Homo sapiens: one gene and its partners. The protein of the gene in region 1 purifies or fractionates together with the protein of each later gene. This does not show direct contact. Each region holds a gene or a part of one and is shown in the gene's direction. Other genes may lie near its edges. The genes, in order: PTPRK, NPC1, MANBA, SCARB2, POGLUT1, CD109 and SUSD1.

What was found.
Region 2: the proteins of PTPRK (region 1) and NPC1 purify together in Homo sapiens (affinity purification with mass spectrometry; 3 studies listed by BioGRID and IntAct, with this or other methods). This does not show direct contact.
Region 3: the proteins of PTPRK (region 1) and MANBA purify together in Homo sapiens (affinity purification with mass spectrometry; 3 studies listed by BioGRID and IntAct, with this or other methods). This does not show direct contact.
Region 4: the proteins of PTPRK (region 1) and SCARB2 purify together in Homo sapiens (affinity purification with mass spectrometry; 3 studies listed by BioGRID and IntAct, with this or other methods). This does not show direct contact.
Region 5: the proteins of PTPRK (region 1) and POGLUT1 purify together in Homo sapiens (affinity purification with mass spectrometry; 3 studies listed by BioGRID and IntAct, with this or other methods). This does not show direct contact.
Region 6: the proteins of PTPRK (region 1) and CD109 purify together in Homo sapiens (affinity purification with mass spectrometry; 3 studies listed by BioGRID and IntAct, with this or other methods). This does not show direct contact.
Region 7: the proteins of PTPRK (region 1) and SUSD1 purify together in Homo sapiens (affinity purification with mass spectrometry; 3 studies listed by BioGRID and IntAct, with this or other methods). This does not show direct contact.

The regions. Positions count from the first base shown.
Region 1 is NC_000006.12:127,971,600-127,975,099, reverse strand, and holds part of PTPRK (receptor-type tyrosine-protein phosphatase kappa isoform b precursor), read left to right. Parts: intron 1-1,272; coding exon 1,273-1,436; intron 1,437-1,942; coding exon 1,943-2,078; intron 2,079-3,500. UniProt on the Homo sapiens protein: Regulation of processes involving cell contact and adhesion such as growth control, tumor invasion, and metastasis. Negative regulator of EGFR signaling pathway. Forms complexes with beta-catenin and gamma-catenin/plakoglobin.
Region 2 is NC_000018.10:23,534,507-23,538,006, reverse strand, and holds part of NPC1 (NPC intracellular cholesterol transporter 1 precursor), read left to right. Parts: intron 1-1,130; coding exon 1,131-1,334; intron 1,335-2,306; coding exon 2,307-2,538; intron 2,539-3,447; coding exon 3,448-3,500. UniProt on the Homo sapiens protein: Intracellular cholesterol transporter which acts in concert with NPC2 and plays an important role in the egress of cholesterol from the endosomal/lysosomal compartment.
Region 3 is NC_000004.12:102,758,169-102,762,452, reverse strand, and holds the start of MANBA (beta-mannosidase precursor), read left to right. Parts: upstream 1-1,484; 5' UTR 1,485-1,558; coding exon 1,559-1,735; intron 1,736-2,000; exon of another isoform or gene 2,001-2,129; intron 2,130-4,284.
Region 4 is NC_000004.12:76,179,325-76,182,824, reverse strand, and holds part of SCARB2 (lysosome membrane protein 2), read left to right. Parts: intron 1-1,723; coding exon 1,724-1,871; intron 1,872-3,119; coding exon 3,120-3,308; intron 3,309-3,500.
Region 5 is NC_000003.12:119,482,463-119,485,962, forward strand, and holds part of POGLUT1 (protein O-glucosyltransferase 1 precursor), read left to right. Parts: intron 1-2,865; coding exon 2,866-2,925; intron 2,926-3,500. UniProt on the Homo sapiens protein: Dual specificity glycosyltransferase that catalyzes the transfer of glucose and xylose from UDP-glucose and UDP-xylose, respectively, to a serine residue found in the consensus sequence of C-X-S-X-P-C.
Region 6 is NC_000006.12:73,804,203-73,807,702, forward strand, and holds part of CD109 (CD109 antigen isoform 1 preproprotein), read left to right. Parts: intron 1-2,641; coding exon 2,642-2,870; intron 2,871-3,500. UniProt on the Homo sapiens protein: Modulates negatively TGFB1 signaling in keratinocytes.
Region 7 is NC_000009.12:112,140,798-112,144,297, reverse strand, and holds part of SUSD1 (sushi domain-containing protein 1 isoform 2 precursor), read left to right. Parts: intron 1-674; coding exon 675-827; intron 828-1,798; coding exon 1,799-1,978; intron 1,979-3,500.

The DNA.
Region 1 (3,500 bases):
GATTTTTTTTCTGTTCTCACTCTCATCATTTAATATATTTAATATATTTAACTGCATCAAACATTTAACATGTACCAACAAGTTTGTAGAGTACTAAGTAGGGCTTGTAATCTACCAAAAGATGCATGGGCTCTTGCCAATCTGATATGATTTACTCATATATTACATATTCTTCCTGATATTTTTATTTCAAGGTTTAAGGTTTTGATTCATTCTTTCAACACTACTACTTTTGGGGAAGTATTATGCAAAGTTCTACTGATACAGAGTGTAGGAAAAAAAGATTTCCGTGTACTTAAGGAATCTTTATTTTTTTCAGGAAGAAAAGCATTACATGAAAATTGTATAATCCTTTTTGTATAAAAGTGATGCATTTTACAGTGAAAGAGTAAAGAATATAGAGTGTTTAACTGGGTGATCTGACATAACTGTGTGATCAGAGATGACCTCTTTGCGATAGTAGTATTTAAGCCAAAATTTAATGAATCAATAGAAATTAGTTGGGGGTTGATGTAACCCACCATCCTGGTTTGCCCAGGGCAGGAGCTTTCCCAAGACACACAGCCTTCAGTGCTAAGACCAGAGAAGTCCCAGGCCAACCTGGGACAAGTTGGTCATTCTATTTGGGATTGAGAAGACCAAGCAAGGAAGAAGTATTCAAGGCAAAGGGTACATACAGTATATGCAAAGTCCCCAAGGCAAGAAGAGACTTGATATATGGATTAAAAGAAGACAAAGAGAAGGTTGAAGAAGGGGGTGGAGCCAGATCACATAAGTTTTTTTAAGCCATGACAACAATTTGGATTTTATGCTAAGATCATTTGAAAATCATTAAAGCAGGAAATGACAAGATTGTATCTGCAGTTCAAAATAATCATGATGCCTATAGTAAGAATGGACTGGAAGGAGATCAAAGTTTATTCAGGGAGATCAGCTAGGAGGTAATTATCAGAACCTGTGACTAGTAGTGTATTGATGTCAGTGGTGATAAAGAGAAGGCAATGAATCTGAAAGTTATTTAGGAAATGTAATCGTAGTAATGAATTACTGGATACATAGTGCGAGGGAGAAACAGGTATAAAGGATGATTGCCATGTTTCCTGCTGTTGTCACTTAGAATGTTTTTTTACTAGCATGTACATATTGAGGATTTATATCAGCTAGACTCAATCCAGTGTAGATGCCATTTGTATTGTAAATTATATGCACCTTTTACTTTTTAGTAAAAATTGTAGTCCCAGCGTATTTACATAAAAACACTTCCCTCTACAGCCACAGGAAGGTTATCTGATGGTGCAACAGTTTCAGTACCTAGGATGGGCTTCTCATCGAGAAGTGCCTGGATCCAAAAGGTCATTCTTGAAACTGATACTTCAGGTGGAAAAGTGGCAGGAGGAATGCGAGGAAGGGGAAGGCCGGACGATTATCCACTGCCTGTGAGTAGGGCAGCTCAGCCTGTCATTCATGGGGCCTTGGTGCTTATTTTCTCATTTTCAATGTTAAAGACTATCTGGCTTGCATCTTATGGACCTCCCATAGATGTTATTTTTAAACAGTCTTCCTGTCTCATGAGTCTATAATTAACTACTAAGTTTATTTTGTATATTTTCTAAATATTGATTATTATATAGCTATATTATTTAAACTCTTTGGAACACTACTCGTAACAACTTCTGATTTACACAGTTTACAAATATATCAGAATCTCAAAGTCTAGATTGCAGCAATCTATGCCTATAGCATTTTCCTGAGTATAAGCTACTGATCTAATTTCATCCTCAAGTTTTCTCCTCTCTGCCTTGTACACATATAAAGCAAAATTAAGACACAAATGGAAAACAATTAAAACTACAATGTCTTATTTTCCCAAACATATATGATGGTGTGACCTGTGGTCACTTGGTGCTGCTATCTAAAATGCCTTTGCTTTCTTTGCTTTCAGAAATGGTGGCGGGCGAAGTGGCATGTTCTGTGCTATAGGCATCGTTGTTGAAATGGTGAAACGGCAAAATGTTGTCGATGTTTTCCATGCAGTAAAGACACTGAGGAACAGCAAGCCAAACATGGTGGAAGCCCCGGTGAGTCACAGAATCTTAGATTTGGAAGGCATCTTAGAGATTAGTTAGTCATATACCTACTTATTGATTTGACTTCATACACACATAGGGAATCAGATGTGAAAATGAGACGTTGTGGGGACTTTCCTGCCTAATTAATACATTGCTGAGCATCCCCCTCTACCCACAGACACTTAATCACGTATTGCATAAACTGCTAATCATGAAACTATTTTCATTTAATTTGGGAAATTTGTAGGATTTTTTTTCTGTTATAGCCAAAAAATATTTGCTGCAGTAAACTTTGGTAAATGGTCCTATAAGAAGAATAAATCCTATATCAAGGCTGTATGTCTAAGGGATATAGGTTTCATCAGTACCTTAGACACCCAGTATTTTTAAAAGGCAATGAAATTTAGTTTTGTCATTATCTATAATTATTCATTCATTTTCTGATCAAATTGTAAATGGTTAAACTATCATGGTTAAGTTTTCAGCTTTTACCAACTGTAGAGGGCAGTTCATATCATGCTACTTGAGCTTGTCAAGGCTCGTAAAGTCAGAACATAGCTTACAAAATAAGAGCTGATAGGTATGTGTGTGTGTGACAGTTCATCTAGGTGAAGCTGTATGCAGAGTAAGAAAGAAAGTTACACTTATCTAACACATTTTACTTCTAACGAGAGATATCTGTGGGTTACACATATGTATGTGCATGGTGGGATCAGGTTGGGAGCAGCTGTGTAGTGTATGCTCACAGAAAAGTAAACCAGAAAAACCAAGGCATCATTGTTGCTTGCCCTACATTTATCAAGATGATCAGATAACTAGAATGAGCAATTCAATAAACCTTTAAAGTATTTCACCACTTCCTGCTCATGGATTGCTCGCACAAGAGTTGCGTTGCTTCCTGAGACAAAATCTGAAGACTTAGGTTTGTACTGTTTCACTTTTACAAGCGGTACCAGACTTCCACCCTTTCTACAGGTGTCCTCAAACTCCCTACACCACCTCATTTCCCTGGGTTGTTGCAGCTGTCTACACAAGATTACATTGGTTTTGATTGGGGTGCTGGCTATGGAGATGAGAAAGGGGGGATGAATCGGAGGGATTTTTGAGGGAGAACTCTCAGATCGTCTTAGCAACTAAATGAATAGTGGTTATGTCTCTAAACTTTGCGATTTGAAGATTTCTTGATGTAAACTCTGCCTCCATTTTTCAGGTCAAGTCTTAAAATCATCAGTGGGATCATTTCTGACTTCAGAATTCAACTTTTACCTTCAAATTTAACTGATTTCCCACCTTTTTTAATTAAAAAAAAAATCTATGGTTAAACTGTGCCATTCTGGGACCTTCCAAAAAGTTACTATTTTCCTTTACATTCATGTCCCGTGAATCCTGAACACCCCACCCTCTGATTTGTGTTTAATCAGTGTTGATGAT
Region 2 (3,500 bases), on another chromosome or scaffold:
TGATGATGACCGGAAGTCTCTGGCCTTGATTTGGAAGCTTTGGGAGGTGGAAGATGAGTATCCCCATGTATGTTAGGTAAACCCTGAACTTAGGTTTTTCATAAGAACATACATCTGACCAGAGTCATATCAGTGAATCATTTATATCATGCATGTGCTTTGAGACCTATTCGAGGTATCATGGGATGACTCCTCCTAAAAGTTAAGTAGAAATGAATCTTGCAGCTTGATTTACTCACTGACTGGATGCTTTGGCCTACGTAAAATAAGTTGAAGTAGATTCAGTTTTTCTGAAGGCAGTAGCCACCGTTCCTGGGGAGCCTCCAGGGTGCCAGCGTCATGCCAGGCACTCCCTGACATTATTCCATTTCTCATCACGCAGCCTATGAGTAGGTGGTGGTATACCCATTTACAGAAGAGGAGACTGGGGCTCAGAGGTGGTCATTTTGCTCGGGGTTACATGACCAGTAAGTGGCAGGGCTGAGGTTGTTCCCAGGGCCCTTGCCCTTTCCTGCTTCCTATTACACAACAGGACTGAGTAAACCCTGTACCTTTGATTATACATGAAACCAGGTGGAGAAACAGCAGCTATGTACCAAAGAACCCAGAGCAATCGAGAAAAGCCCATCTGGCCAGGCGAAGTGGCTCACACCTGTAATCCCAGTACTTTTGGAGGCCGAGGTGGGCGGATCACCTGAGATCACCTCAGGAGTTCAAGACTAGCCAGGCCAACATGGCAAAACCCTGTCTCTACTAAAAAAATACAAAAGTTAGTTGAGCGTGGTGGCAGGTGCCTGTAATCCCAGCTATTCGGGAGGCTGAGGCAGGGAGAATTGCTTGAACCCGGGAGGTGGAGGTTGCAGTGAGCCGAGATCACGCCACTGCACTCCAGCCTGGGCTACAGAGCAAGACTCTGTCTCAAAATAAAAAAAAAAAGAAGCCAGTCTGGGAGAGAACAAGCTAAACCTTTGGTGTTCCCTTATCTGGGGGCCTTCTTCATCCCTGAAATGTACAGCTGGGTCTGACCTCTGAGTCCAGGGTCAGGTGATTTTGCTTAGCCTCAAGTGCTCAGATTCTGCTGATATTTTGCAAGACCTGGACTCTCTTGACACCCAGGATTCTTTCCTCAGGGGACATGCTGCCTATAGTTCTGCAGTTAACATCCTCCTTGGCCATGGCACCAGGGTCGGAGCCACGTACTTCATGACCTACCACACCGTGCTGCAGACCTCTGCTGACTTTATTGACGCTCTGAAGAAAGCCCGACTTATAGCCAGTAATGTCACCGAAACCATGGGCATTAACGGCAGTGCCTACCGAGTATTTCCTTACAGGTAAAGCCTGCCCTTTTTCAATGGGGTTTACCCAGCAAAGGGCCTACACTGGGTGGGAGTGGGGAGGGTTCCCTTGGCAAGATGCTGATTTTCAGGTTGGGTTCTGGCCCCTGCTCCATTCTGAGCACAGGGCAGTATATCAAAGGAAATGGGTGCTGGGCAAAGGAGTTCAGAATCTAAAGTCTCTGTGAAGGCCTGAGGGCTAGAGACGCAAAACTTGATCTCTGCGCCACTGCACAGCTGCAAGAGACACACACTGGAAAATGGCTTAAGGCAGGGGGCGCTTGGAGAGCAGGCGGCTCAGAGCAGGGCCCGGCCCACATTCTTGGCCAACAATGAACCAGAATCCCTAACTGCTGGTTATTTGGGATGCTGCCTGTATGTAGACTTTTTATATTGTTAGGGGTTTTTTTTCCCAGGAAGAAAAGTATTATGTATGAACTACTGAATTTAGAAACTGTAGAAAGGTAGGAGAAACAAGTGATTTATTTTTCCTGCCTCCCCATGATCTCGCTTAAAGCAGGAAGGCCTGGATTTGTTTGGAAGAAGTTAAGAGCCGGTTAGCTCTGGCAGAAAATAAATGAAAGCATGTTTTCCTCAGGCCTTGCACGGACCCCGCTGAGCCTGAGGTAGTGTCTCAGGATAGATCAGGATTCTTTGTTTTTTTGTGTTTTTTCAGAATGCTGTGGAATGCTCTCTGTAAATGTCTATAAAATAGCATAGATTGGGCTTATAAACAGAAACTTTATCAAAAATATACATTTTGCATCACTGCTGGGCCCTTCTCTGGGTGGTCAGTGGCCATGAGAGGTCAAGTGAGTTGCTTTCGGTGAGTCTTGTAGACAGCCAGCAAGGTTTTCTGCAAGGGATGTTTCCCAAAGGAGTCTGACCACTTGGCAGTGGTGACAGGATGAACACGCAGTGTTCGGGAGTGAGAGCGAGCTTTAATGAGGCCTCCCCTCTCCCCTCCAGTGTGTTTTATGTCTTCTACGAACAGTACCTGACCATCATTGACGACACTATCTTCAACCTCGGTGTGTCCCTGGGCGCGATATTTCTGGTGACCATGGTCCTCCTGGGCTGTGAGCTCTGGTCTGCAGTCATCATGTGTGCCACCATCGCCATGGTCTTGGTCAACATGTTTGGAGTTATGTGGCTCTGGGGCATCAGTCTGAACGCTGTATCCTTGGTCAACCTGGTGATGGTGAGTCCTCATACAGTCTCAGTTTGTCCCTAGCTCCTGTTTCACTTGGGGGAATTGGCTGTCTTAGATTCCATGTAAACCCTAAAGATGGAGTAAGATACCAAGTCTGGCGCTTGCTCTTGGCACACATGGAGAGGCAGGATGAGTGCTGGAGGAGTGCTGGATGGTGGTGGGACAGGGCATAGAGGGAGCGAGCATTGAGTTGGACATCTGGGAGCATAGGCACATTACAGGCAATTTCTGTTCAATTTTTTCTCTTGTCCCATTCCTTGCGGCTATACTAGTATACCTGATGGTGCCTCTGACCATGGAAATGTGATTTCCTGGCCTAGTTCTGGGCTAGTCTGCCTGTAATTTGTTATTCTTTAGAGATTGCACAAGCCTGTAGCCTGATGACAGCAGGATGTTCACTTTTTACTTAGAAAATTGCACCCCGCCCCAGGAGCTCTCCGACCAGTGCCTTTTGCCTCCTATGTGGTTATCAGGTACTTTTAATCATTAAAGATGAGAGCACTTGAGAAGGTATTCATGGAAAATAGAACAGTGTATCCGTACTCTCAGATATGAGCCCTGCTTCAGATAGGGGAGCACTGAGGTCCAAGAAAAGAAGTTGTGACAATGCGCCAGCTCGGTGCGGGTGGGGTGACCTTAACGGGTTCCAGCAATTTCTCCTGGTCAACACAAACGTGCCACAGAAAACCAGGCTTTTGGCTGTGTGTAGAGAGGGCCCCAAAAAGTTCCTGGTACAGTAAGATTGGTGTGATGGAGGCCTTGTAAGTCCAATGGGATGCTTGGCCTCCTCTAGCACCCAGGGTGCCCTGGGTAATTAGCACCCATCCTCAGAACGGGGTGGCTGCCTAGGGTCTTCAACAGGAAGAGAGCCATCCTAAAGGAAGTGCTTTATTTCAGAGCTGTGGCATCTCCGTGGAGTTCTGCAGCCACATAACCAGAGCGTTCACGGT
Region 3 (4,284 bases), on another chromosome or scaffold:
TAGTGCCATCTCGGCTTACTGCAACCTCTGCTTCCTGGGTTCAAGCGGTTCTCCTGCCTCAGTTTCCCGAGCACCTGCGACTACAGGCACGTGCCACCACGCGCCCAGCTAATTTTTGTATTTTTAATAGAGACAGGGTTTCACCATGTTGGCCAGGCTGGCCTCGAACTCCTGACCTCAAGTGATCCACCCGCCTCGGCCTCCCAGAAGTGCTGGGATTACAGACGTGAGCCACCGCGCCTGGCCCCGATCTCTTTGAACTCAGTTCCCTCATCTGTAAAGCCAGCGGCTTGGGTTGGATAATCCATACTGTCCTTTAAGCCAAGATATTCAGGGCTTGTAAATAATGCTGACTTTGCAAAGTAAGATATTGCCCGGTGTCTGCAGAATCAGGCAATTCCAAGGCCATTGTAAGGCGAAACAAAGCTCAGATTTGATGAGAGAAAATTTCTTTTCAAGGACTTCTTCCGAAGCATAAATATACGGCAGATAGCGTCAACACAGGAGAAAGGCAGTCTATTTTATGCAATGTAAAATTCCGTCTTAACTTCTAGGATTACTGTTACATCCTATTGCAAAAATGGGACTCAGGTAGACCATTTGACTACAAGACCCGAAATAAGTCAGTGGTATTTCTTGGGTACTCTGGCATTGTTAGGGACGATCACATATGTTTACTCATTTTATACTTATAACACCTTGAAAACTTCAAGAAACGGAGATGGAGATTTTGCGGCTTGCCCAGGTCCCACAGCTAGTGAGTGCAGAGGATTTTAAACTCAGCTGCGCGCCTAGTGCAGGTTCCAGAACCTCAGAAACCTCCGTGGGGCTTTATGAAACATAAGGACGCAGGCCGCTAGTAACAATAGCTAACGTGAATGCCTTCTCTGGGCCAGGCTCCATGCTGCATGCTATAGTCGCATTTTCTTGGTTAGCCCTCAGAACAACCTTCTGATGGAGATACTGCTAGTACTTGTTTACTCTTTGAAGGGCGGGGTAGGCTCTGAGACCCGCGAGTTGAGCTGCAGCGGGGTGAGTGTTACGCTACCAGGTAGACGAGGGTCTGTGTAAATTTGGCGGAAGGGAAGTGGTGGGTTGTCTCCCAGTTTGGGTTCTCTGAAGGAGTGAGGGGACTCTCCAGCTATGGTCTCCACGTACAGTCGGTCTCTGATCTCCCGAGGCTTTGTGCCACTGCGCGCCCAGGGATCTTTCTGTCCCAATTACCGTGCAAGATTCTTGCCTCCAGTTGTATGTACTGAGGCGGCGGGAAGAAGCGCCGAGGGAAGGCTCAGACCGCAATGCCCCCCAGCCTGTAGCTATTCTCGGGGGCTGCAGCTCCCGCACCCGCGACGCCCGGCTTTCAGCGGGTGCAGGCGCAGCCTCCTCGTTCCCCTCCCGCCCGCGGCTGCGCCCGGAGAGCGCTCAGCTGACCTAGGGGCGGGGCCGGGGCGGGGACCTAAAGCCTCGGCTACTTCCGAGGGGGTGAGTGGCTTCACCGCCGGTCCCTTGCAGCGCTGCCTTTCGATCTCTCCACATCTCGGTGGCGCGGGATCTCAAGATGCGCCTCCACCTGCTCCTGCTGCTCGCGCTGTGCGGTGCAGGCACCACCGCCGCGGAGCTCAGTTACAGCTTGCGTGGCAACTGGAGCATCTGCAATGGGAACGGCTCGCTGGAGCTGCCCGGGGCGGTCCCTGGCTGCGTGCACAGCGCCTTGTTCCAGCAGGGCCTGATCCAGGTATGGCGTGCGGCCGACCCGCGGCGAGCCTGCGCCCGCCTTCTTCTGGTGCTGAGAGGGGCCCAGGAACCGCCTGGCAGCCCCCAGCTCTGGGCCATTCTCGTCGGTTTGGTAGTAACTTCCCCTTTGCATCTTGTGATCTGCGGGGGGAAATGCCCAAGCTATGGGGTACGGGCTTGACGGAGACTGAGCGACCGACCCATGTTGGGACATCAGTAACTCTGGAAAGGGGAAGTTTAGATAGGGGAACAGTGTTGCTACTAGCAGTTTACTTACTGCAGTCGTTCTCTACTGAAGCGTGTATACAAAGGGCATGCCGTCACTGACAAGCATAAGGTCGGGAATTACTGTCTCTACTGTCTGCACGCCACAGGGGACAACAGCGTTTTGTTAAGTAAGGGTTAACTCTATTGAGTAATGTCTCGGTTTTTTATTTTCGCTGTTAAGCGTCAGGGAGTCAGATTTGGGATTGACGCAGCACAGACGTTGTGGAGAATGACCTACAAGAGTAAAGTTGGGTTTGTCAGTGCTAGTGTGGCTAACAACGGGTAAATAATTTTTAAGGCTAACTTGGTGATGAAGAAAGGTGCTATTTCCTCTCAGGGCGTGTGTGTGTGTGTGTGTGTGTATCCCAATGGAGTCTCCAATTTACAGACTACTTGTGGGGAACGTTTTCGTGTTTGGCTGCCTGTGCGCATAGGTTTGCAAACTGACTTCCATCCTCCAACTGCTTTTGCTGTTCCCTCTTGCACAGCGTTCCCACGTGTTGTCTTTACTTGGGGCAAAATGTACTTGTAATTGATCTACTTGTGGGATGCATACATTGTCCAATCCTCATAACAACTCTGTATAGTAAGTGTTCATATCTGAATTTTATGGATAATATGGAATTATGGAACACAGAGAAATTAGGAAGGTGACAGCAACTAAATGGAAAGAAATGGAATTCTAACCCAGGTGGTCTCAACTCCATAGCCTGGTCTCTATACTATGTGGTATGCTTAGTTTGGTGTTTTAAAAAATCATGTGTTTTTGAAGCACTGTGGCTGACTTTCAGGAGCACCATTCTAAGTTTATTTGCATGACAAGGTGGTCATCTAGGGTTGTGCCAAATTTCTGACCTGGTACTTAGTAGTTTTTTTTTTTTTTTTCCTGAGATGTGTATCAGAAAGGAGGTGAATGTTGTAAATGACATTGACCATTGTCCGATGTATTTTTAGAGTAGATCATTCCCAAACTTTAGTACTTTATTTTAAGTTGACAAACTACTTGTGATAGAGAACACAGCTGACCACAGTATACTCTGAGTTTTCACTTATATCTGCTTTGAGAATGCCTGTGTTTATTTTGTAGGGTTCCTCCTTGCCTGATTTTACTGAAATAATTAAGCCAATGGGTGCTGGTACGTGAGAGCTTTGGGAGGCCAAGGTAGGAGGATCCCTTGAGTCCAGGAGTTCAAGACCAGCATGGCCAACATAGAAAGAGTCTATGAGGCCGAGGTGGGAAAATTTCTTGAGGCCAAGAGTTCAAGACCAGCATGGCCAACATAGAGAGATTCTATCTCTAAAAAAAAAAAAAAAGAAAGAAAGAATTAAGCCAATGGGAAATAATGAGTGGCTTCAGTAAGTCAGATTATTGTGCCATATTACAGAGCTAAGAAGCTAAGAAACAACGTTTGGTTACAACAGATACTTAATGAAAATGAATTTGCTCATAGTATGAAATAACTTCCTCATAGGAACAATTTGAAGAGATTTCTTAACTCTCTTCATAAATTCTTAGCAAAACCTTGAGGTTTCAATCAGGTGGCCATGGGTCTCAAATGGCAGTGGAATGAGAAATGGGAAGGCTTTTGGGGCTTAGGAAACACAAGGCCTGTTGAAAATAATCATCAGGCTGGGCACAGTGGCTCATGCCTATAATCCCAGCACTTGGGAGGCAGAGGTAGGTGGAGTTTAGACCAGTCTGGGCAACTGGCGAGACCCTGTCTCTACAAAAAATTAAAAAATTAACTGGGCGTGGTGGCGTACACCTGTGGTCCTAGCTACGAGGGAGGCTGAGGTGGGAGGATCGTTTGAGCCCAGGAGGTTGAGGCTGCAGTGAGCCGTGATCTGTACTCCAACCTGGGCAACAGAGTGACACCCTCTCTCAAAAAAAAAAAAAAAAGAAAAAAAGTAAAGAAGCAATCATCAACATCAGATCAGTATCGTTATTCAGTAATGTGAGACTGTTGTCCGACCTGCTTTATTATAACATCCCTTTTTGGTGTTGACTTGAGGAAATATTCTACCGTTTATAGTAGACACTGGGCCAAATATTGTGTTTGTGTAAGAACTTGAAACATATCTTGGTGATATCATTCATTTATTTATCTATTCACCTAGTTAATTATCTCATATTTATTTTGTACCTCTAATGTGGCAGGCACTATTCTAAGTACTTGAAATCGAGTGGTAAAGAAAACAAAGTCCTTTCCCTAATGGACATTCTAATGGAGGAGATAGACATATATACCAAATTAATAAATAATGTAAGGCAGGTGGCACACT
Region 4 (3,500 bases), on another chromosome or scaffold:
TTCAACTTATGATGGGTTTACTGGGACATAACTCCATCATCACCGAGGCGCATTTTTACGTACCAGTTTCAGCCTTCAGCTTGCTTGCAGTCTACCTGAGGCTACATGATAATTTCACAATCTAAATGATGTCACTCAGAAGTTTCTAATTGAATGCTAAAGACATGTACGGACATCCACAGGTGGGTGAGAAAAATCCCTGTGCTGCTATGGTTGGGAAAGGCCTCAGAGGAGGTGTGGGTAGCCCAGCTGGCCAATGCCTTCCTAACCTGTGCTCTTAAATTAGCTCTGTTCAATAGAAATATTACATGAACCACATGTGTAATTTAAGATTTTAAGATTTTCTAGTAGCCACATTTTTTAAAAAGTAGAAGGAAGCAGGTAAAATTAATTTTGATAATATATTTTAATTTTACCCATTATAACTGAAATAGCATCATTTCAATATATAATCAATATAAAAAAAGGTTGGCACTGTTTTTGAAATTCTGTATATATTTTACACTTACAGCAAATCTCAATTCCAGTTAGCCACAGTTTAAGTACTCAGTAGTCACATGTGACTAGTGGCTACCATGTCAGACATAATAACCCTAGCTGGTTTAGGAAGAAGGAAAGATAAGCAAAGGGAAAGAAACAAAAGTCACTGGAATTTATTGAACACCTACTATGTACCAGGCAGGGCTAGGGCTAGGGCTAGTGTGAGGCATTTGATGAACAAAAGATCAGATTCTGTTTTTATTTAAAATTTTGTTCATCATAAATTTTTGGCATAAATTTTGGTTTTAATAAATAGTGCATTAAACTATTTATCTTGATTACTACTTGTTTAGGCACCTCTTACATCACTCACACTGACTCTAGGCCCAGCCCTGGCACCAGGCGCTTTCTAAGAACTTTCTAATGCTTCATTTGGGGGCTCTAACTTGAACCAAACTGTGCTGTATATCAGAAACAGAGACCGGGTGTGGTAGCTCATGCCTGTAATGCCAGCATTTTGGAAGGTCGAGGCAGGAGGATCACTTGAGTCCAGGAGTTCAAGACCAGCCTGGGTAGCATAGTAAGACCTCATCTCTACAAAAAAATAAAACAATTAGCTGGGTGTGGTGGCATGCTTCTGTACTTCTAGCTACTTGGGAGGCTGAGGTGGGAGGATTGTTTGAGCCCAGGAGGCTGAGGCTGCAGTGAGCTGTAGTCATGCCACTGCACTCCAGCCTGGGCAACAGAGCGAGACCCTATCTCAAAAAAAGAAACAGGAGTGAACTCCTGTAATTTACTAAGCCTTGGGCATTATTTTTTAAAATAAAATTTCAATTTAATTCAATGTAGAAACAAGAAGACATTGGTAAACAAATTGAAATTCAAACTAAATCTGTGAACCAAACTGAAAATTTTGAAAATACTTCAGGACCAAACCATAACCCAGGAGAGAGTTCATCGGCTTTGATTCCCGGTCAAGGTGACCCTCAACTATTGCACCTCCCTAATCAGGGAAGAAAAGAAGGAAAACAAAGTTTTTGAGAAGACTCTATCCTAGGCCTCGTTTCCTTCCCACATTATAGCTTCGATCTCCAGCTTTTTAAGGCTTAGTAGCTGCAGTCTCTATATAATGTTATATTGGGAATGTTATATTGAAAATATAACTTGGATGCTGAAAGAAAGGAAAAGTCTTGCTTATTAAAGTGGTGTCTATTTTCAAATAAAACCCTTTTCTTTCTTTTAGGGAACTCAGAAACAAAGCAAATATTCAATTTGGAGATAATGGAACAACAATATCTGCTGTTAGCAACAAGGCCTATGTTTTTGAACGAGACCAATCTGTTGGAGACCCTAAAATTGACTTAATTAGAACATTAAATATTCCTGTATTGGTAAGTAGGCATTTTAATACCATTAAGTTGGATTTTGGAAGAAAGGAAAAAGCTAAGTTAATGCTCTTTATGATTTTACATTTAGGAGCCATTAAGTTATGTTGAAATATACATATATAAAAAGAAAAATACTTCTTTTCTTTTCTTTAAAGTACATCTTGGACTTTTTTCTAAGATGTATCAAATAAGGTCTTTTCAAATGATGACAAAATTCAGATTTTAGGATTTGTTTTCATAATTTCTTCCTGGGTGTTCAGGATTAGCAATTGTGCAAATAAATATGCCCCTAGGATTTTTTGGTAGCTAATAATTTTAAAAATGTTTATTTGCCCCTTGTTTTCATTCAGAAATTCTAGCAATGAAATTTGTATACCATTTCTTACTTCAGATTTTTATGTTGGATTTTATACTCTCAAAATTCATAAATTGACACCAGAAATCAATAGACTGGCAGCCTACTGTGATTTCAGTGGGCTCTGTTTATAATGGTAATTCTACCTAATAACGACACCTATTCTACATCTATTCTATACTGAGACCCATGAGACTTTCTTTTTTTTTAAATTAAATTAATTTATTTATTATTAATTTTTTTTGAGACAGGGTCTTGCTCTGTCGCCCAGGCTGGAGTGCAGTCAGTGGCTCCATCACAGCTCACTGAAGCTTCTACCTCCTGGGCTCCAGGGATCCTCCTGTGTCGGCCAGGGACTCCAGGCGTGAACCACTGTTCCTGGGCTGGCCCAGTAAACATTCTAATTCACCTACACCAACCCCTGCCGACTCTCCCACCCTAACCCCTAGGTGACCGCTCCATATGCAGCTGGACACTGATGATGGACCCAGGACCTAGACAGTATGAGGTCCCTGCCACCTAGTCCCAGGGGTGTAGGTCGGGTTTATAATGAGCCTCTGGCCCTGCTTAGGCGGAAGGTAGCGCCACCTTGTGGCCAAAGATGCCCACATGTTTACAAGAGCTTTTCCCCTTTTGTGGTGTCTGGATAACTCAGAGCCTGCAAATGGTCTCTTTGTAAATATTACACTTACAAAATGCAGTACTGGGAAAGGACAGAGAAGAGGCTTTGTCTTCCATATGCAGCCAGAAAGGAGCTCACTGCCTGATTTTTCAGCTATTTAATCTCAACCTTTACATTTATATTTCCAACCCCCTTTGCTATGGGGTAGTAGGAGAGAGTGGATGGAGGTGCTTTGGAGGGGATGCTGCTGTCTTAATATACCTCTGCTCCGCAGACTGTCATAGAGTGGTCCCAGGTGCACTTCCTCAGGGAGATCATCGAGGCCATGTTGAAAGCCTATCAGCAGAAGCTCTTTGTGACTCACACAGTTGACGAATTGCTCTGGGGCTACAAAGATGAAATCTTGTCCCTTATCCATGTTTTCAGGCCCGATATCTCTCCCTATTTTGGCCTATTCTATGAGGTAAGTAGATTTTTCTTTTCAGAACCTCTTTTTTTAGCTGACAGTGGGTTGGGGCACCCCAAGCCAGATTAACTTTGAGTTTCTTCTAGAAATTGCCTAGAGTTAAGTTATCTTATAGAGTGTGTGAAAAATGGAGTGTTTTTTGGAAAGAAAAAAAACTTGAGGCCGGGTGCGGTGGCTAATGCCTGTAAT
Region 5 (3,500 bases), on another chromosome or scaffold:
AAGGTGTTATCCAGTTACTCCACCGTGTAGTTATTAATACCATTTTCCCCCAGGTAAACTAGTAAGCAATTTTTAGGCAGATAGAATGTTTTAAAGTCTAATCTTATATGAATACTTTTTTCTTTTGATACCTTCCCATTTTATTCAATTGAATTTATTCATGGTTATAGAAATACAATTTTGTTTTTTAGAACCCTCTGTTTAGAATCTCTAATGATGTTCATTTGTTACCTTGAAAATTTAATAATCTGCTTGTTTATCCATCTGCACTGATGTCTGCCTGCCACTGTTCATTCTATTTTTCTGATATTTTGGGAGTTTGTGCCCACTGATTTATATTTCACTCTGTAGAAGAATTCATTGTTCTTTACAGATCGAAGATTTCATTTGTTACTGTCAGAGAGGGTTTAAAAAAGAGGGCTGGGGTAGCACCAGGCTGTGGTGGCCACCGTTAGCACTTGCCTGGAGAAACAAGTCCTAACCTAGGTCTTTTGAGGGAGGATGGGTAGGTTAGGAGAATGAAAGAGAGAGAACAGTGATACACAGTTTGGGTTTGTGTATATGAAACACAGCTTCCCCAGGAGCCAAGGAAATAAAGAGAAGTAACTTTGAGTATAAATTGATACATGTTTTGTTAGATAGTTTGACAATATGTATCAAAATTGGAAATGTATACTGTGTATCCTTTGACCTAGCTGTTTCATGTCTAGAATGTATCCTAAGGAATTAATCAGATGAATGTGCAAAGATTTGTGTACAAGGATGTTTACTACCATGTTGTTTCTTAGAGCAGAAAGTTGGAAACTACCTAAAAGTCCATCAATAAAGGATGAAGTGAATCATAACATGACTATAAAATGGAATTTTTGCAGTGAGTCTTTGCCAGAGATTATAAAATGGAATATCGTGCATGAATGGAAAGGCAGTGTAGGTTTTAAAAACTCTGGGTTCAAATCCTGGCTCTTATTAGCTGCATGACTCTGTGCAAGTTGCTTAACCTCTAAAGGACCTCATTTGTAAAATAGGGGTGATAAAACCTACCTCTTAAGATTGTGAGAATGATTTTTTATTTACAAAGCACTTAAAACAATGTCTGTAACATAGTGAAGTGCTATATAGATGTTGGCTGTTATTATTATTTATATTTCCTATTAAGATTGTTACCTAACAGTATGTATGGTGTGACCTCTGTTACATAGAGCAAAGTTTCTCAGTACTAGTGTTGCTGACATTTGGGGCTGGATAATTCTTTGTCCTGGGAGCTGTCCTAACCACTGTAGGATTGTTCAGCAGCATTTCTGATCTTTACCCACTAAATGCCAGTAGCAGTCCCCTAGTAGTAACAATCAAAAATGTCTACAGACATGGCCAAATGTCCCCTGGGTGGGAGGGACGGGCAAAATTACCCCCAGTTGAAAGCTACTAATATGAATAAATGATTGCAAGGAAATTCTCGGCTAAAATGTTACATTGTTACCTCTGGACAGGGAGATTCCAGACGACTTCTTACTTTTATCTTTATGCTTTTTCATGAGAACTTTGCATGAGGAGCATGAAACATTTTCCACTAAAAACAAAACAACAAAAATCCAGTGCTATAGTGTCTCTGCTTGGGCAGGAAGAAGTATGGGGAAAACAAGATAGTTCTGGCCTTAGACTGGAGAATCAGGTAAAGGTGATCCATCCAGAAAAGGCCAGAGGATGAGCCACGTTGGCTGAGGGTGGAGGTCTGAGGGCCTGGAAAATACTGAGCAGCGTTCTCAGCTGAGTGAAAATGAGCAGCATGACATTATATGTATCTGAAAAGGACCTGTGCCTAGAAAGTTTATATCCTAAGTTTCTCCGTTACTGTAATCCAGCCCATCAATCCCTCATTAACTTCAGTTCAGCCTTCCCTTCCTTTTTCAGAGAAGATGCTGTGCAGACTTCTGTGCAGGGAGGGTTCCTACGAAGCAAGTTAAGAATGATGCATCTGTGAGCTAGCAGTTTCAGTAAGGAAGGCTGGTCATGGTAATGTGTACTGAGATCTGACTTTCAAGGACTTCATCTTTATAGAGCACTTAGTCTGGCTTTAAGAATACAAAGGTGCTTTTCAAATATCAAACTAAATCTGATGACACTTCCCACCTATGGAAAACATAAAATCAGAGAGTGATTTCCCTTTCATTCCATTTCTGATGCTTTTTTATTTTTTTGCAGTTCTGTACACATAATTAATTTCATCAGTAGCACCCTACTTAAAGTACAGAGGAAATCCACATTTGCCAAATTATAAACAGACCTAATCATGACCTTCAGGGTTTGGGGGCTTTTCTTTCAATGTTGTTAACTTGTTAATGGGGAGTAGATTTGTAGATACAACTGGGTAGCACCTCCAGAGCAATGAAATGGTAGCAAAAGGAAACAAAGTGTCCTTTAGGGCTTTTTCTTTTGAGTGACTTTGATTAGACTTACTTAGAAATATGAAGCTCTGGCCAGGCACAGTGGCTCACGCCTGTAATCCCAGCACTTTGGGAGGCCGAGGCAGGCGGATCACGAAGTCAGGAGATAGAGACCATCCTGGCTAACACGGTGAAACCCTGTCTCTACTAAAAAATACACAAAATTAGCCGGGCGTGGTGGCGGGCGCCTGTGGTCCCAGCTACTCAGGAGGCTGAGGCAGGAGAATGGCATGAACCCAGGAAGGGGAGCTTGCAGTCAGCCAAGATCGCGCCACTGCACTCCAGCCTGGACGACAGTGCGAGACTCCGTCTCAAAAAAAAAAAAGAAATATGAAGCTCTGAACTAATCTTCAGAAATGGTTAAAGCACATTCTTATATAGTTGAAAAAGATATATTGAAACTAATTAAATTCTATATTCTTAGGTCAGCAGCACAGTGGCCATGGAAAAAGAAAAACTCTACAGCATATTTCCGAGGATCAAGGTGAGTTATTTTCTGACATTTTACAAAGATATTCTTCCAAGTAATGTAAAATGTAAGTAACTTTGAGGGTATGACAAGCTCTGTAGTTCAAAGGGAAAGCTAAGATAACAAAGAAAGAAATGTGGAATCACAATTTTAGATTCGAGAATAATTCACATTATTTGCCGAAATCGCCATTGATTGAGTTGATATTCAAAGAAGTAAAGTTCATCCATTTCAGTCATTTAACAGATATTTTACATAGTGTCACAAATGTGTCGGTCATTGATTATGTGATGCCAAACACAACAGATGGGTGTCTTCTTACAGTCCCTAGGAGTAGCTTATGATCATGCCACGGTACTCTGCTGGTTAATGCAGAGCAGGACTCATCACCATATCTCTTGACTGCCTTTTTTATCACACCCTGTGGCTGCCAAATAGTGGTTAAGAGCACAGACTGAGACTGCTGAAAATGAAGAAGGGAGCAGGGAGGAAAGAGAAGAGAAAAATGGCAAAGGTAGTAGGAGGACCCTGTGTTGTTCAGCTCCATAGTCCCAAGGCCAAGAACAGTTCCTAGCATGTCAATATATGAT
Region 6 (3,500 bases), about 54 Mb from region 1:
TTGAATATCAGTAATGTTTACCACATGAAACTTTATATAACATGAAACAGATCTGCTTCAAATTTTCTCTTGGCCTTGGCCTGACTCAGGATATAGAACCATAAATAGAAAGCTTTCAGTGTTGTATTGCTTGATGTTCTTTTTACCTCAGTATAGTGTTTTGTAGCAGGGACTGGCAAACTTTTCTGTAAAGGGTCAGATTGTAAGTATTTCAGGCATTTTGGGCCACGTAGAGTCTCCGTTGCATGCTCTTCCCTCTTCCTCCCTCTCCTCCCTCTTTCTTTCCTGTCTTTGTCTTTTTCTTTTCCTTCTTTTAAAACCCGCTCTTAGGTGGTGGTGTTGGCAGGTGGGGGCTGGGTTGGTGCACACATAAACAGGCCCTGGGCTGTATTTGGCTTGAGGGCCAGATTTGGGCCAGGCAGATTTGGCCCACAGGCTGCAGTTGGCTAACTCCCATTCTATAGGAGAGAAAAATATCATTTTCCCCACCTGAAGTACTACAGTTTGCTTGTGAACTATGTATGCATTCTTCACCCACAGCTTTGGGGCTGACTGAAGCGTGTTGGAGCTCTTCTTTGGTAAATATCTAGAACAGTCCAAAGATGAATAACCTTGGACAATTTATTTAACTCTCTTGGACTGTCAGATTCTCAGTCTACAAAATAATGGAGCTGGATTCAACAGACACATTAAAAAATGCTCATCATCACTGGCCATCAGAGAAATGTAAATCAAAACCACAATGAGATACCATCTCACACCAGTTAGAATGGCGATCATTATAAAGGCAGGAAACAACAGGTGCTGGAGAAGTTGTGGAGAGATAGGAATACTTTTACACTGTTGGTGGGACCATAAACTAGTTCAACCATTGTGGAAGACAGTGTGGTGATTCCTCAAGGATCTAGAACTAGAAATACCATTTGACCCAGCTGTGGGGAAAAGAAAGAGAGATCAGATTGTTACCGTGTCTGTGTAGAAAGAAGTAGACATAGGAGACTCCATTTTGTTCTGTACTAAGAAAAATTCTTCTGCCTTGAGATGCTGTTAATCTGTAACCTTACCCCCAACCCTGAGCTCTCTGAAACATGTGCTGTGTCAACTCAGGGTTAAAGAATTAAGTGCTGTGCTTTAGATATGCATACACATAAACATCTCAATGCCTTAAAGAGCAGTATTGCTGCCCGCATGTCCCACCTCCAGCCCTAAGGCAGGTTTCCCCTATCTCAGTAGATGGAACATACAATCGGATTTTATACCGAGACATTCCATTGCCCAGGGACGGGCAGGAGACAGATGCCTTCCTCTTATCTCAACTGCAAAGAGGTGTTCCTTCTGCTTATACTAATCCTCCTCAGCACAGACCCTTTACGGGTGTTGGGCTGGGGGACGGTCAGGTCTTTCCCTTCCCACGAGGCCACATTTCAGACTATCACATGGGGAGAAACCTTGGACAATACCTGGCTTTCCTAGGCAGAGGTCCCTGCAGCCTTCCGCAGTGTTTGTGTCCCTGGGTACTTGAGATTAGGGAGTGGTGATGACTCTTAACGAGCATGCTGCCTTCAAGCATCTGTTTAACAAGGCACATCTTACACAGCCCTTAATCCATTTAACCCTGAGTTGACACAGCACATGTTTCAGAGGGCACGGGGTTGGGGGTAAGGTTACAGATTAACAGCATCTCAAGGCAGAAGAATTTTTCTTAGTACAGAACAAAATGGAGTCTCCTATGTCTACTTCTTTCTACACAGACACAGCAACAATCTGATCTCTCTTTCTTTTCCCCACACCCAGCCATCCCATTACTGGGTATATACCCAAAGGATTATAAATCATGCTGCTATAAAGACACATGCACACGTATGTTTATTGCGGCACTATTCACAATAGCAAAGACTTGGAACCAGCCCAAATGTCCATCAATGATAGACTGGATTAAGAAAATGTGGCACATATACACCATGGAATACTATGCAGCCATAAAAAAGGATGAGTTCATGTCCTTTGTAGGGACATGGATGAAGCTGGAAACCATCATTCTCAGCAAACTATCGCAAGGACAAAAAACCAAACACCACATGTTCTCACTCATAGGTGGAAATTGAACAATGAGAACACTTGGACACAGGAAGGGGAACATTACACACCGGGACCTGTTGTGGGGTGGGGGGATGGGGGAGGGATAGCATTAGGAGACATACCTAATGTAAATGACGCGTTAATGGGTGCAGCACACCAACATGGCACATGTACACATATGTAACAAACCTGCACGTTGTGCACATGTACCCTAGAACTTAAAGTATAATAAATAAAAATAAAATAAAATAAAATTAAATTAAAAAATGGAGCTGGATTAGATCATTTCTAAATTCCTTTTCAAATCTGAGATTTTTGAGTCAACATGGAATTTCTTGGCCAAGCCCAAGTGGAAACCAGTTCTGCCTGCTAGAGAGAGTTGCTTACCTTGTCCCTTTGCTCTTTCTTTTTTGATTTTTTTCTTTCCTTGTTCCATCTTCAGTGATTCCCCCTTTGATGAATCTTCTGATGGGGGAAAAAGTGTTGTTGTTTTGCTTGCTCGGTGTTATTTGGTGGACCTTATAAAGTGTATTTTATGTAATTTTTTTCTCTTTTCATAAAGGTTGTCAGCTTTTGTTTTAAGATGTTTCCTTGAAGCCGATCCTTACATAGATATTGATCAGAATGTGTTACACAGAACATACACTTGGCTTAAAGGACATCAGAAATCCAACGGTGAATTTTGGGATCCAGGAAGAGTGATTCATAGTGAGCTTCAAGGTGGCAATAAAAGTCCAGTAACACTTACAGCCTATATTGTAACTTCTCTCCTGGGATATAGAAAGTATCAGGTATTTCGTATTTAATTTAATAAATGATAGATGGGAAATTCAAGGAAGGTAGGTCTTAATGGGTCAAATATGTGTGTGGAAACTTAACAAGTTGCAGCTTTACAACACATGTGAAATCTGAATTTGAGTACTCTTTTGCTTTGCATTTGTGGCCATGTTCCAAAATCTGAGAATAAAACATTAACCCACTCTTTCAGAATAACTAAGAGAATTCTAAAAATGCTTTTTAATGTATGTATTGTACTTGCTATTGGTAAGATAAGTCAATACATGTTTTATCATTGAAAAAGTTAATTTCTGAGGGGAAAGAAAATTATTTAAAATTTGACAATGTGTTCTAGCAAGTTTAGATTGCAAAGGATTTTTTACTTATAAAACATCATGGAACAGTTACAATATCTGTTAATTTAGTGCTGAGAACACCCATACCCTGAAAAGTGTGTTGAATGGGCATGGATGCCTGGATGAGAATGAGTATGCGTGGAAAGGTATGCTGACGAGCTTAAGTTTGCTCCAGAGCTGTCCTGGTGATTGATGCCTTTACTGCTTACTGCCTGCTGCATTTTATGAGATCACCAAAGTCATTCTCTTTATTAGGACCCCCACTATTTTCCTATTCTACTAGTAGGC
Region 7 (3,500 bases), on another chromosome or scaffold:
TGGATATATTTATAGTGATTGGATTTTTTAGTGATTGGATTTTCTTTTTTTTTTTCTTTGAGACGGGGTCTTGCTCTGTCACCCAGGCTGAGTGCAGTGGCGTGATCTCGGCTCACTGCAAGCTCCGCCTCCTAGGTTCAAGTGATTCTCCTGCCTCAGCCTCCTGAATAGCTGGGACTACAGGCATGTACCACCATGGCTGGCTAATTTTTGTATTTTTACTAGAGATGAGGTTTCACTATGTTGGCCAGGCTGGTCTCGAACTCCTGACCTCAAGTGATCCACATGCTTCGGCTTCCCAAAGTGCTGGGATTACAGGTGTGAGCCACCATGCCCGGTCAGGATATTTTTTAGTGATTGGATATATTTATGTTTTTGGTTCATTTTGTTGGGTGTCAGGGAGCCGGTGATGGTTATCAGCTTTTGTAAAATCCCAGAACACACTGACAAACATTTATTGAGCACTTGCTATGTTTTCAGTGCCTATGATATGAACGATATATGAGAAGAACCCATAAGGCATAAAATAAAATGTATGATACAATTGCAAACAAATGCATCTTTTTACAAGAGTAGCTTGAAAATGTGAAAAAATGGCTGTCACAATATCCTCTCCTTTTTTTTTTCTTTTTTCTGTTTTTATCTCCTTTTCTCTATTTGGATTGGGTCCCAAGACATAGATGAGTGTGAAGTTTCTGGCCTGTGCAGGCATGGAGGGCGATGCGTGAACACTCATGGGAGCTTTGAATGCTACTGTATGGATGGATACTTGCCAAGGAATGGACCTGAACCTTTCCACCCGACCACCGATGCCACATCATGCACAGGTGGGTTTCTGCCAAAAATTGCGGCATCTCAACGTGAAATTCTGTTGATGGTGACTTTCTTCTGCTCCAAGCCTGTGTTGGGGAGGCAGGTGGAGGTGATCTGATCCTTTGCACATTTTGTACAACCTATGACATAAAGCAAATAACAACAATCAAGTTACAGGGGGCCATGTTAAAAAAGCTAAAATTAGGCCAGGAGCAGTAGCTCTGTAATCTCAGCACTTTGGGAGGCCGAGGCTGGTGGATCACTTGAGGTCAGGAGTTCGAGACCAGCCTGGCCAACACGGTGAAACCCTATCTCTACTAAAAATAAAAAAAAATAGCCAGGTGTGGTGGTGGGCACCTGTAATCCCAGCTACTCAGGAGGCTGAGGCATGAGAATTTCTTGAACCCAGGAGACAGAGGTTGCAATGAGCCGAGATCATGCCATTGCACTCCAGCCTGGACAACAGAGTGAGATCTCTGTCTTAAAAAAAAAAAAAAAAAAAAAAAAAAAAAAAAAAAAAAAAGCTAAAATTCATAAACTTAAAGGATTTTTATTAGCAGTTAATAGATATTCCGATATTAACTACTATGTTAGATAGTAAATGCCAATGATTTGGTAAGGTCCCTGCATCTCAAAAGTGACCCTGAAAATAATCAAGGTACATATATCTTAAGGTATTTTGCAATTCAGATTTTTTATTTCACTGGACAAGGCTTCTCTTTAGTTAGTGTAAATTAGTGAGGGTTGATTGCTAAGTTATTTCAGCTTTGTGCATGTATAGATGCTTTACCTATGGAAGGCCAAAAGATTGAATAAAGACAATTGTTGGAAATGTTCCCAGAAGTCATGTGGGAATGAACCAGTGTACTTAAAATATGGCTCGGGGGTGTGTGTGTGTGAGGAATAGGGTAGAGGTGGAGAGAGATTGTGAATTTTGAAGATTTACATTCACGAGGTAATGAATTTGACATTAATTTATTTTCAGAAATAGACTGTGGTACCCCTCCTGAGGTTCCAGATGGCTATATCATAGGAAATTATACGTCTAGTCTGGGCAGCCAGGTTCGTTATGCTTGCAGAGAAGGATTCTTCAGTGTTCCAGAAGATACAGTTTCAAGCTGCACAGGCCTGGGCACATGGGAGTCCCCAAAATTACATTGCCAAGGTGAGTTTTCAAAAAATACAGGTTCCCAATTCATACCACCTTGAAACTGTTTTCATATTTTTCTCTAAATTTCAGTTTCAGGGAATAAATGAGTTAAGTAAACCTTTAAAATTCCTATTTGTTTCTCATAGATTTTCAGGTGATTTTCTTGATTTTTCAGGAATAGTATCATATCATCTGCAAATCATAATTCCATTCATAAATTTTTCTTTCTTTATAATAGTTATGTTTTTCTCTTGATTGATCACTTTGTATTTTTAGAACAAAGACTTAAATGGTAGTGTTGCCTTTGAATATTATTTTTTTATTCCTGACTATTAGGGAAATGGTTTGGGTGTTTCTTCATTCCTGATGTTAGTTTTTTGATGTTAGGTGTATATATATATATATATTCCCAGAAGTCATGTGGGAATGAACATATATATATACATATATATACACACACATATATGTATATATATACATATATATATAAAAACGTCATGTGGGAATAACATATATTATATATAATATACAATATATACAATATATGTAATATATTACATGTAATGTATTATATATTATATATTACATGTAATATATATTATATATAATACATTACATGTAATATATTATATATTTTTTATATATATATATAGTTTTTGAGACAGAATCTCGCTTTGTCACCCAGTCTGCAGTGTAGTGGCACAACCTTGGCTCACTGCAACCTCTGCCTCCTGGGTTCAAGCGATTCTCATGACTCATCCACTCGAGTAGCTGGGATTACAGGCACCCACCACTACACCCGGCTAATTTTTGTGTTTTTAGTAAAGATGGGGTTTCACCGTGTTGGCCAGGCTAGTCTTGAACTCCTGACCTTAAGTTATCTGCCCGTGTTGGCCTCCCACAGTGCTGGGATTACAGGTGTGAGCCACTGCGCCTGGCTGATATTTGGCATATCTAATCATGTCTACTCATATGGCACTGTGTGCCAAGTATTATTTTAAGCACTTTATATATGATGATGGACCACATTGTAGTGGTCCCATAAGATCATAATGAGACTGAAAAATTCCTATTGCCTAGTGACATCGTAGCCATCATAATGTTGTAGTGCATCACACTCACGTGTTTGTGGCATTGCTGGTGTAAACAAACTTACTGCTCTGCCAGCAAGTACATTACTGTATGTATATTACTGTATGTACATTACTATACATAAAAGTGTACAGTAATGTCCTAGGCCTTCACATTCACTCACTATTCACTCACTGACTCACCCAGACCAACTTCCAGTCCTGCAAGCTCCATTCATGGTAAGTGCCCTATTACAGGTGTATCATTTTTTTATCTTTTATTCTGTATTTTTACTGTATCATTTCTATATTTAGATATATAAGTACTTCTTATTGTGTTATAGTTGCCTACAGTAATCAGTATAGTAACATGCTGTGTGAATTTGTAGCCTAGGAGCAATAGGTATACCATACAGCCTAAGTGAGTAGCAGGCTCTACTATCTAGGTTTGTGTAAGTACACTCTGT